Linked DNA regions of Homo sapiens. The protein of the gene in region 2 interacts with the protein of the main gene of each other region in a pairwise test. Each region holds a gene or a part of one and is shown on either strand. Other genes may lie near its edges.

Region 1 (3,749 bases), on a different chromosome or scaffold from region 2:
GTACATTTCTTGAAGGTTCTTCAAGCAATGTACTATCTTAAGCAGATAGTAGGTTCTTATTTGCTTAAAAGTCCAATATGACAATGTTTGCCTTTTGGGATGTTTAGATTATTTACATTTGATACCATTATTGATATGGCTGGATCTGGGCCTGTCATCTTTCTACTTGTTTTGTAATGGTCCCATCTGTTCTTTGTTTCCTTTTATTCTCTTTTTCTATTTTCTTTCTTTTCTTTTTTTTCTTTTGTTTGAGACAGAGTCACTGTGTCACCCAGGCTGGAGTGCAATGGTATGATCTCGGCTCATTGCAATTTCTGCTTTCTGGGTTCAAGCGATTCTTGTGTCCAGCCTCCCACGTAGCTGGGATTATAGGCACACACCACCATGCCTGGCACATTTTTTGTATTTTTAGTAGAGATGGAGTTTCATCATGTTGGCCAGGCTGGTCTCGAACTCTTGGCCTCGAGTGATCTGCCCACCTCAGCTTCTCAAAGGGCTGGGATTACATGCATGAGCCACCGTGCCTGGCTCTTTTTTTTCCTATTTTCCATAGGATTAATGGTGTGTAAATATCAGGCATCGTTCTTTTCAGTCTTTCCAAATGATCCTTTCTCTGGCCTTGGTTAGTTTTCCCACACCCATGTACTGATCTGTATTTTGTTGAATACTCTAAAGGGACCTTCTGCTGATAATTGAGATTCCATCTCTATGCAGCCCTCTCCTCTCTGGCATTCTGTCCTATAAACTCAAGCTGCCTTGGTCTCTTCAGACTCTACAAGGAAATATGCCAGGTTCTGCCTCAGTTCCCCCTTCCTGTGTTGCAGCCTGGAAATTCCTCAGGGTAGTAGCTTAGGGAATTATAGGGCTCACTTCTTTTCTTTCCTGTTTCTCAGGGATTGTTGTCGTTTTTTGCATGATATCTTGAAAATTGTTTTATATAATTTGTCTGGTTATTTTGTTTCAGGCAGGAGGGGAAATCCAGCCCCTGTGATTCCACCTAGATAAGAACTGGAAGTTTTCCCTTAGCATTTTTTTTTTTTTGAGACAGTCCCACTGTCACCCATGCCAGAGTACAGTAGCACGATCACGGCTCACTGTAGCCTCAACCTCCCCTAGGCTCAGGTGATCCTCCCACCTCAGTCTCCCGAGTAGCTGGGAGCACCACCTTGCATGGCTAATTTTTGCATATTTTGTAGAGACGGGGTTTCACCATGTTGCCCAGGCTGGTCTCGAACTTCTGAGCTGAAGCAATCTTCTCACCTTGGCCTCCCAAGGGGCTGGGATTACAGGTGTAATCTGTAATCCCTGCATTTTCAAAAACATTACCCTTTTACTTTTGGTGTTTAGTCTGTTGCCATCTCGACTTCCCAGTCTTCGTGTGTGTTGTTTTTCCTTCTCTGAAAGCCTGTAGGATCTGTTGTGTATTCTCATTTTTCTGAGATGTCTCAGTTACATGCCTATGTGTAGATATTTTTCATTCATTGTCCTAAATACTTTGTTGGTCCTTCCTTCTCTATGTTGCTTTTAAGGAGATAGAATATTTTACCAAGTTATAAACAACAGTGCACATTTACAAAATCCTTAGCTCATCCTTAGTTCTGTGGTGTGAATTGGGCCCCTTTTTGTTTGCTTCCCCTTCTGCCAGAAGTTGAGTTTCATCTTTGTCTGCTTTTCTAGTCTAGTTATCATTCATTCTCTTTCTGCCTTCTAAAATTCTGTTTATACCTCTAGTTGGCTTTGATTCTTCTCTCTCTCTCTTTTTTTTGAGACAGGGTCTCACTCTGTCACCCAGGCTGGCGTACAGTGGTGCAAACACAGCTCACTGCAGCCTCGACCTCCCCGAGCTCAGGTGATCCTCCCATCTCAACCTCCCAGGTAGCTGGGACTACAGGCATGCACCACCACACTTGGCGAATTTTTGTATTTTTTGTAGAGACGGGATTTCACCCTGTTGGCAACATCGCCAGGCTGGTCTCAAGCCATCCGCCTGCCTTGGCCTCCCAAAGTGCTAGGATTACAGGCGTGAGCCACTGTGCCCAGCCTGCTTTGACTCTTCTCTTGGGCTATTATGTTACTATCACTTTAATGGGGTTAGGGAGAGAGTGAAGATCAGTACAAAAGTGTTATTCACTGTGTTTATACAGATGTCCCCTGTGCATGTGCACACAAAACCCACACTGGGGAAAGGAGCCCAGAGGAACAGATGGGCACACAGAGCAGGGCACAGTGGAGGCAAGCAGAGATCAGCAGATGAAAATAGAGCTGTTTGCTGGGGATGACCACAAAGGGGTGCAATGACCCTTGGACTCCCCTGTTGGTGCGGGCAAAGATGGCTGAGGGCTGGCCTCATGGTGGAGTGCTGGATAACTGTCCTTGGCAATACCACTAGACCCAGTAGATCTCTGCCCCACTACTTAGCCTGATCCTCTGCCCTCACACAGGGTTTGAGCAGGAACTTGTTGTTTTAGGAACCAGTGACCTTTGAGGATGTGGCTGTGTACTTCACCCAGAATGAATGGGCCAGCCTGGACTCTGTGCAGAGGGCCCTGTACAGGGAAGTGATGCTGGAGAATTATGCAAATGTGGCTTCCCTGGGTAAGACATTTCTTCTTGTTTTTGGCCTCTGCCCTTTAAGCATCCTGGCTTCTTTATTCCTTAGAACTTTGTGGGGTTTTTTTCTTTTTTTCTTTTTTTTTTGAGACAAGAGTCTCCCTCTGTCGCCCAGGCTGGAGTGCAATGGCGCAATCTCGGCTCACTACAACCTCCACCTCCCAGGTTCAAGCGATTCTTCTGCCTCAGCCTCCAAAGTAGCTGGGATTACAGGTGGGCGCCACCACACCCGGCTAATTATTGTATTTTTAGTAGAGATGGGGTTTCTCCATGTTGGCCAGGCTGGTCTCGAACTCCTGGCCTCAAGCGATCCTCCTGCCTCAGCCTCCCAAAGTGCTGGGAAGACATGTGTGAGCCACCGCTCCTGGCAGGAGAACTTTGTGGGGTTTCTAATAACTCTCTGTTGCCCTGAAGGCTGAGCTGCCTGGAAGTTTCTGGGTGGAGAGAGCCCTGCGTTCCCAGGTTTTGAAATCACCTGTCCCTCCAACCCTGGGAGGGGCTGTACCCAAAACATGGGGGGGAAAGGAGCTCTTGGGAGCACAGCAAAGCCCCTTGTGTCTTCCAAGTTCTCTGAAGAAAACTTGAGATTCCCTTATGTGAGCGTGGGATTATTCTGGGACTCTGTGCCACTTTGTGGGAAATTTCTGTCCTCCAGCAGCATAGATTAAGTTTCTCCCTGACTCACCTTGTCTCTCACTACCTGGCTCAGCAGATAAAGATAAAGGGGGCTGCAAGAGGATCCTGGTTCCTGATTCCCCTTACCTTTTCCTGTTTCTTTCTCCCTGGGCAGCATTCCCATTCACCACGCCTGTTCTGGTCTCCCAGCTGGAGCAAGGGGAACTGCCATGGGGCCTCGATCCCTGGGAACCTATGGGCAGGGAGGCTCTCAGAGGTATCTGTCCAGGTGAGCATGAGAACCCACTAGCTGCCTTTTTGGCTTGGCTTGCTTTCTTGTTTTCACATTTCATTGTGCAAGAAGTGTTTCTTCTCTTGGGAGACTGTTTTTGTTCCTGTGGAATCATTACATGTGATTCTCTGAGTTCATGGTGGTAGCCTACCTCAACTGGGGAAGGGCCAGTCTCTTTTAAGACAGGAATGACTGTAAGATTTCTTTGCATATTCGTCTTTGCCTGTCCTCC
Region 2 (3,749 bases):
ATGCTATTACCTCCAAGGAAGGCATAGAAACTCCCCCTGGGCCCCTCCTGTTAGTGTTATTATTACCAAAAACATGTATAGTGCCTACGTGGGCCAACAGTGTGGAACCACCTGGGAACTTGTTAGATATACGCTCTCAGAATCTGCATCCTAACAAGATGCCCAGGTGATTTGCACACAGGTAAAGCCTGAAAAGCCTGCCTCAGAGGATGTGAAAGCTCTCGTTTAGTTCAGTGTGGTCCTCGGGAAAGCTCTTCTGCTCACCGCAAGTTGGCTGGTTTCCAAAGCTGTGCGTGCCAGCTTGGATCTCCTGGGGCTGATATACCACATTCTCCCCTCCTCCCATCTCTATCCCACAGTGCAGCGACATTTCTCCCTTCAGTCCAAACTTCATGATTCCTCCCTGTTTTCCTCCCAGGGCACTGGTGACTCATTTACAGTCTTCCCTCCTGGCAGGCTCTCTGGCTCACCCCTGGGTTATTCACTCTGCCTCAGTAATTCTGAAACTGTCAGAGTCTGAGGACCACTTTTTACCACCAAAAACTGCTGCAGAGCCTTGCGTTTTGTTACTTTTAGTATTCATAAATTGAGAAGCTTCCATAAATTTAGGTCCATCTGTGGGTTAGAGAACCCCCTCCAACAACTCCGTGACTCCCAGGGTCTTAGGCTGGTTGATTGAGAAATGACAGCCTTGAAGGGGTCCATTCTGTTCATTTTTTTCCCACCCACAGGCCGCCCTCCTTCTGTCATCTGTGAAATGACATCTGAGAGGAAGCAGGGGTTCCTTACGTTCTAAAGAGGTGATTATAAACCCAGATCAAAGTCCCCTTTATCCAGAAAGCATTCCCAGATGGACTTTATCCCATTCTGCATTAATCTTTCTATCTACTCGACATGCGCAGATCAGGATGTGAGCTTCATACCACGAATGTAGTATGTGTATGTGCTTGTCCTTTCTTCATGTTTCTCCTGAGAGCCTTACAAACAATGTGACACACACACACACACAACCTATATATACACACATGTATTATATACACACACATATGTGTATATATAATATATATGATGTGTATATGTATCCATGGGTGTTTGTTATGACTATTGTCATAGTCATAACATAGTCATAGTGCAAATCCTGCAAAATTTTCTCTCCTTTCCGAGGACTTCTCATTCTCTCCCATCCTGACATAGGCTCCTTACCTGGCTCATAGTCCAACTCAAAGCATAGTTTTTCTGTAAAGAAAATAAACCAGGATGAGATTTTATTAGTCTTACAAAACCATCAGACACTTAATGATGAGAAAACTGAGGCCAAGAAGAGGGAAGGGACAAGAAGAAGAATGTAAGCTGGAATCCTCTAGACCAGTGGTTCCAAGCTTGCATCAGAATCATCTGGAGCTCTTGTTAAAACACATCTGTTTCAGATTCAGGTGCTCTGGGGTGGAGCTGAACATCTGTATTTCTAACAATTTCCTGGGCAATGCAGCTGCTGCTGCTGGTGGGAGCCCCACTGCCCTAGCCCTGATCAAACAGGGACCATGACTGCCTTGCTCACCTCTGTACCCGCAGAGCCCAGGACATAGTAAATGCTCAAGAAATATCTGCTTAGTGAATAGAGAAATGGGTTCATTTATTTATTATTCCACTTGGAAATAATTTTGGGGAGAGTCAAAGGTCAGCCTTTGATTAGAGTGAAATTTCCTTCACTGACAGGTCACTGGAAGTATTTGCAGGAAATGGAATTATGGGAAAAGTCCTTCTAGGGTGACATAACTGTGGGTGGGTCATTTCAAAATTGGTGTCATCATTCATTCTGTCATGGTTAGTGAGGAGGTGGTTGGCAGAGAGCCATGTCCCATTCCTGACTCTCATCCAAACCCTCCCCCACACCCTACCACCACTCCCTGTTCCGGAAAAGGAAGTGGAGCACAGTCCCCGTAGGACCGTCTAACTCTGAGCCAGACTAACAGAAAGAAAGTGAGAAGGAAGGAGGGACGAGCCAGATACCACAGGGTCAAGATAAATACTGTTGTTGGCTATTAATTAACAATGTTCATCATCAAAAACTTATCACATATTACAAATGTTGCTGTGGGATTTTTTAACTTATTAAGAATGATATATTGTTAATCATTATCTTTCATATTGCTTAATGACCACTAATCAGATTTGTTGAATTATTTTAAAATCAGTTTAACTTTTTCACCAGAAATATTCACCTTTATTCTCTTTCTTCATTGTCACAATATCCTAATAGGCAGATTTTATAAAAATCTGCAAATAAGGAAATCAAGGCACAGGAAGGAATAAGGCTTGCCAAAGTCACACCTTTCAGCAGTGGAGCGTGGAGGCCACTCCTAAACCCAGGCTTCATGGCCACCTGCGCTCTGTGGAGGCCTGGGGTTCTCTTACCCAGAAACATCTTCATCTCCCTCTGCAGCGGGAGGGCCTGCTGGGGAAAGTCCCGAATCCTCTGGCCCAGCTCTGGCGACACAGCCACCGGTTTCCGGCACTTTCTGGTTTCACATCTAGGGGCACAGAAATGGCTGGGTCTGGGAATTATCATCCTTAATAATGTCTCCAGACTCAGCTGGTCATCTTCTAATAGGGCATGATGGCGCTAGTTCCTGCAGGCAGACGTACTTCCTCTAGGATGAATCCCACTGCCCATTTTTGGGCATCTATGGATATACCTGAGAAGGCATTTGGGTATATAGAGGTTTATATGTAAATTTGTATCCTTAAGTGAGAATGTTATATACCTGTGTGGCAATAACTAGGCATGCAGTACATGTATGTATATTTATATGGAAAAAGAAAAGAGAGAAACTATATTGCTTACCTTATTAGAGTGCTTCTGATGTCCTAGGAGAAAGAGATACCAGAAATTCAGTTTCCAGCTTCTCCTTTCCATTTTTCTTTCCTTTCTTTTTCTACTTTTATTTTATTTATTTTTTATTTGCTTGTTTGTTTGTTTGAGAAAGGGTCTCACTCTGGTGCCCAGGCTGGAATACAGTGGCGTGATCATGGCTCACTGCATACTCAACCTCCTGGGCTCAAGGGATCCTCCTACCTCAGCATCTTGAGTAGCTGGGACTACAGGTGTTTGTCACCATGCCTGGCTAATTTTCTTTTTTTTTTTTTTTTTTTTTTTGTAGAGATGGGGTTTTGTTATGTTGCCCAGGCTCCTCCCACTTTTCTTATGACTGGAAAAGACAAAATATATTTCTAGCCCTGGACAGGAAAAGGATACCAGATGCATAGAGTCACAGAGCATTAGGACTCACCCATCTCTGTGGATCAGAGCCCAAAGCCTTTATTTTTTAGATAAAGATGGTGAAGTGACCTTCCCCTGCTCACTGGAGGCAAAGTAAGTCTCATACCAAGGTCTCCTGTTTCTCAGTCCTAAGAGCATCATTCTAAGTCATGCTGCCTTTCCAATACTTTGTGGGGACCCCAATACCTCTCCTCCAGTGTGAGGAAGTGAAATAGACCAGGACAAACTTCCTGACTGGTGGTTGGTGACATTTAGGTTATAGAGAATGGTTTGCAACTTACTTAATACTTTTTCAAAGTGCTACTTTCACTTCCATCTTACTGTTGGATCCTCACAAAAGCCCTGTGAAATATTTAAGGAAAGTATCTTCCCTATTTGGCAGATGGTGGGACGGAGAGGTGGAGACCAGAGAGCAAAAAGTGACCAGGGAACTCTTGGAAAAGCATGAACTAGAATTGAGACTTTCTGG
Region 3 (3,749 bases), on a different chromosome or scaffold from region 2:
TTTTAGAAAGCCTCTCTGTTATTTAGGTTGACACTGATTTTGATGTCTTACTAGAGCTTTGTAAGATGTCACCATTGGGGAAAGCATGGGACTCTGGACTATTTTTGCAACTTCTTGTGAGTCTATAATTATTTCAAAATAAAAAGTTAAAAAAAAAAAAAAGGAAAAGTAAGTAGGCTGAGTACCTACGGGTGGTGTTTAGGGAAGTGAGCAAGAGGAGCATGGAGAGCCAACCTGAAGCTGAGAAGTTTTTCCAGTTTAACTTATAAAGGACCTAAGCTTGCTCCTCACCATCGCTTTTGCTGTTACTATCCCTGTAGTGCTCTTCGTTCTGCCCATTTTAGACAGCTGTTTCTCTATCGCTTGTTAGGCTGCTGAGCAGAGAACTAGATCTATTCCTAATAGCAAACCAATCAATCCTAGCCCATTGGATGTAACCTCCAGGCCTTGAGCCCTTTTCAGTTATTAGTTTTCCCACTGCCTAATACTGAGAGTCGGCTTTCTTGCTGCCAGAGGTGTTTTTCATTATGACGTCTGAATTTGATGCCACTGCGGGTGCTAGAAGTTGCCAGAAGGCTGTCCTCCAGATAACTGTCCCTTGGCTCTAACTTGTGTCATTGTTTTGTTGCAATTAACATTCAGAATATGTGCGGTCATCTTATTAAAATTTATATTTTTTAATGGAGAAAGCACACAGAGAGAGTTGATTGTGGAGCTGTGGTTTACTCTTGCTCTTAGTTACCTGTGTCTAAATTAAGCTGAACCTCTGGGCCTTAGCTATTTCTAAACAGGCATCACGATTTACTAAGGTTAATGCCTGAGGGAACATTAACCTTGCAGACACTAATCTAATTCAGTGTCATCACAAGTGCATAATGCAGGAGTTTGGAATTTTGCCAAAAAGCACTATTCAAATGAACATTTAGTTGGCAAGGGGTGGGAAGGCGGGTGTGGAAAAGGGAAGGAGAACACCAGAAATGGCTCTATAGATATTTTCATGCCTTTTCTTTTCCCTCTCCCCTCAAAGGTTACGTTTAAGTATTGCAGAGAGGCGCTAAATGGAATCTTCATATTATTATGAAGAAATCCCAATGAACGCGTTTTATCCCACGGCAAGTTCCAGATGCTCACAATTACTCAACATTCACTGAGCATCTTTTATGTTATATGGCTGACCTTGTGCTAGGGTGTGTACACAAAGATGAGTAATTGTAAACGATGGCAGTATGCAGAAGCACCTCAGGGCGCCTAATGTTAGCTGACGAAGGCACCATTAAGGAGGTCACAGTTTGGCTAAAGGGCCCCCAAAGGATGAGACAACTGTGTAATCCTAGCTCTATAGAGATCATTACCAAGTCTTTGCCATACAAAGTTTGGGCTTCAGGTGAAATGAGAAGGGCAAGGTTCTGCCCAAGAGGGTCCAGGGCCGGATCTCTTGATCTGTGTCTATGCCCACACCCTGCATCTCAGCTTGCAGACACTAATAGGGTTTGCCAGTTTCAAGGGCGCAGGGCTACATCTTCCGGAAAAGGTGGCATTTGAAGGTGGTAAGAGGCCAACGACTGGAGGTGGCGGCGAAGGGCTAGGTAAGACAGAATAAATGAAAAAGCCAAGACATTTCTGGCAAATAACCTTTCACCTAGGTCCCCGACCCTTCCATTTCCCCAGGCCTGAAACGCTCCCGAATCCCCGAGTCCTCCACTTTCCAAGCGCTGGGCATTGGTTAAGGCTGTAGGAGCAGGGAGTCCCCCGCTCTAAGAGAGTTCCTCAGTTCCGATCTTTTTCAAACCGCTTTCCTCCCAGGCCCAGCCTGGGGGGCCTGCGGCTCGGGTCCAGCTTCCACGGCCACCCTGGGCTGGTGACACGCAGGCGCCGGAATCGAAGCCACGCTGTGTCTTTCCAGCCAGGTCTCTGCGCCAGACGAGGGCGGGCGCCGCGGAGCGCTTCCCGTGTGCGGGGCTTCCCACAATGCACCGGGCCGGCAGTGGCGGCGACCGCGGCGGCGCTCTAGCTGCGGCATGTCTGCGTCTCTACTGCTCTGGGAGGAGGAAGAGAAGGAGGAAGAGGAGGAGGAGGAGGAGGGGGAGGAAGAGGAGAAAGGCGCAGGGGTGGGAGCTGTTGCCGAAGCTGCCACAGCAAAAGTTCTCCCCCCTCCCCCCTTCCCCTCCTCTCAAGGCCCCTAGAAAGGTTGGAGCTGCCGCCGCCTGCAGTCGGTGACCGCGCGACTCGGCGCCCGCCCGCGGTAAAGCGCTCGGCCTGGCAGGCCCGGGCCCGGGGGAGGGCGGGGGAGGGGGAGGGGGCGGCGCGCGGGGGGAGCGCGCGGCGGTAACGGCCTGACCCCGGGGGGAGCGAGCCGTGGCGAGGCTGGGGGTGGCCAGGGGGCCAGCCGAGGCCGAGGGAAACGCTGGGGCTGGCTGGGGGACGTGAGGAAGCAGGGCGCGGAGGGTGGGTTGGGGGGTTGAGGAGGGATAATGACGGGGGTGGCGGAGGCGAGAAGGCGGCCTCCGAGGCTGGAGGCGGGTGTCAGAGGTAGGGGAGGAGGTGGGATGTTTGCACGGGGAGGCCGGAGGGTGCTGGGTGTGGGTGTGAAAAGGCTAGGGAGACACCAGGGCTCTGTCCACCGTGCCTGGTGCAGTGCTTTATGCACCGCAGGCCTCAGTCACTGTTGCTGCCGGAGTGTGCTCTTTGGGAGAAGGGAAGGGCAGGGGTTGGAGAAAAGGGAATGCTTGCAGGAAACGTAGTGGGAGTGCGAACAGGGCGAGGGGCCGGAGGAAAGATGCCGGAGAGGTGGAGGAATGCGGGGAGGTGGCTGTGGAGGAGTCTTGAGGATTCTGGGGGGTGTTCATTGTGCAGATACGTTAGGTATTTCATTATGGAAAGAACTGAAGCGTTTCTCAGGGAAGGAAAGAAGGGAGATAGGAGTTCCCGTGAATAGAAAGGATCGCGTTTGAAGCAAGAGGGAGTGCTAAATAGTAGAGAAGATGCAGGGAATGCATAATAGAATAGACAGATGTAGTATAATTAATAAATATTGGCCTAAGTACTGAAGAGTTATTCCAGATGGGCCGGGATGGCCTAGTTCCGAACCTGTGTGGGCTGTTCAGTAGATGACATCTGGTAAGTGTGGGTCTGGGCCGTGGTTGGGGTCACTGAGAATTAGATTTTAGTCTGTAGTTTGGTCTGTGACATTTTAGACGTGCACCAATGAGTATGAGAACCTCTGAAGCAGACCTTGAGAAAGGGTCTGGCCTGTGGGGATTCCTTAGGCTATGGAGCTTCGATTTTAGAAAATTTGAAGTATTAACACTTACCCGAGGTTGGGTAAATACTATCCTGGCAAACGCTGGAATGGAAATTAATTGACTTGGTGGTTTTCTTCACTGCCCAGTTTATCTGGTCCAGGAGAATTGGTGCCGTATTATTCAGCCTGGATTGCAGTACACAAGATTATAATTAATGGTCGGGGGGAAGACATGCTTGCTGGCTCTTCTTTAGATACTTCATTTGTAGCTCAAATTAGTTGGCTGGATTGGTTCCATAAATCTGTGGCTGGTGGGAGATCTTCTGCCATTCACAGTTCCTGAAGTGAACTGTGAGGGAGTTCTCCAGTGAGAGAATACTCTCATTCAGGCATGATGGCATTGAAGAAAACGTATCAGCCAGCAAAGTGTGGGCCTGCAGAATGGAGGAGCTAGAATATCTGTTTTGGTTTTAGGTTGCAAGGAGGTCAGGACTAGTTATCAGAAGGT

Evidence for each region.
Region 1: the proteins of TRIM10 (region 2) and ZNF620 interact in binary tests that used the Homo sapiens proteins (3 or more experiments, as listed by UniProt).
Region 3: the proteins of TRIM10 (region 2) and ZNF148 interact in binary tests that used the Homo sapiens proteins (3 or more experiments, as listed by UniProt).

The regions. Positions count from the first base shown.
Region 1 is NC_000003.12:40,509,002-40,512,750, forward strand, and holds part of ZNF620 (zinc finger protein 620), read left to right. Parts: intron 1-2,468; coding exon 2,469-2,595; intron 2,596-3,400; coding exon 3,401-3,514; intron 3,515-3,749. UniProt on the Homo sapiens protein: May be involved in transcriptional regulation.
Region 2 is NC_000006.12:30,154,524-30,158,272, forward strand, and holds part of TRIM10 (tripartite motif-containing protein 10), read right to left. Parts: intron 2,869-3,749; coding exon 2,846-2,868; intron 2,532-2,845; coding exon 2,416-2,531; intron 1,237-2,415; coding exon 1,204-1,236; intron 1-1,203. UniProt on the Homo sapiens protein: E3 ligase that plays an essential role in the differentiation and survival of terminal erythroid cells. May directly bind to PTEN and promote its ubiquitination, resulting in its proteasomal degradation and activation of hypertrophic signaling.
Region 3 is NC_000003.12:125,373,595-125,377,343, reverse strand, and holds the start of ZNF148 (zinc finger protein 148), read left to right. Parts: upstream 1-2,018; 5' UTR 2,019-2,242; intron 2,243-2,634; exon of another isoform or gene 2,635-3,117; intron 3,118-3,749. UniProt on the Homo sapiens protein: Involved in transcriptional regulation. Represses the transcription of a number of genes including gastrin, stromelysin and enolase. Binds to the G-rich box in the enhancer region of these genes.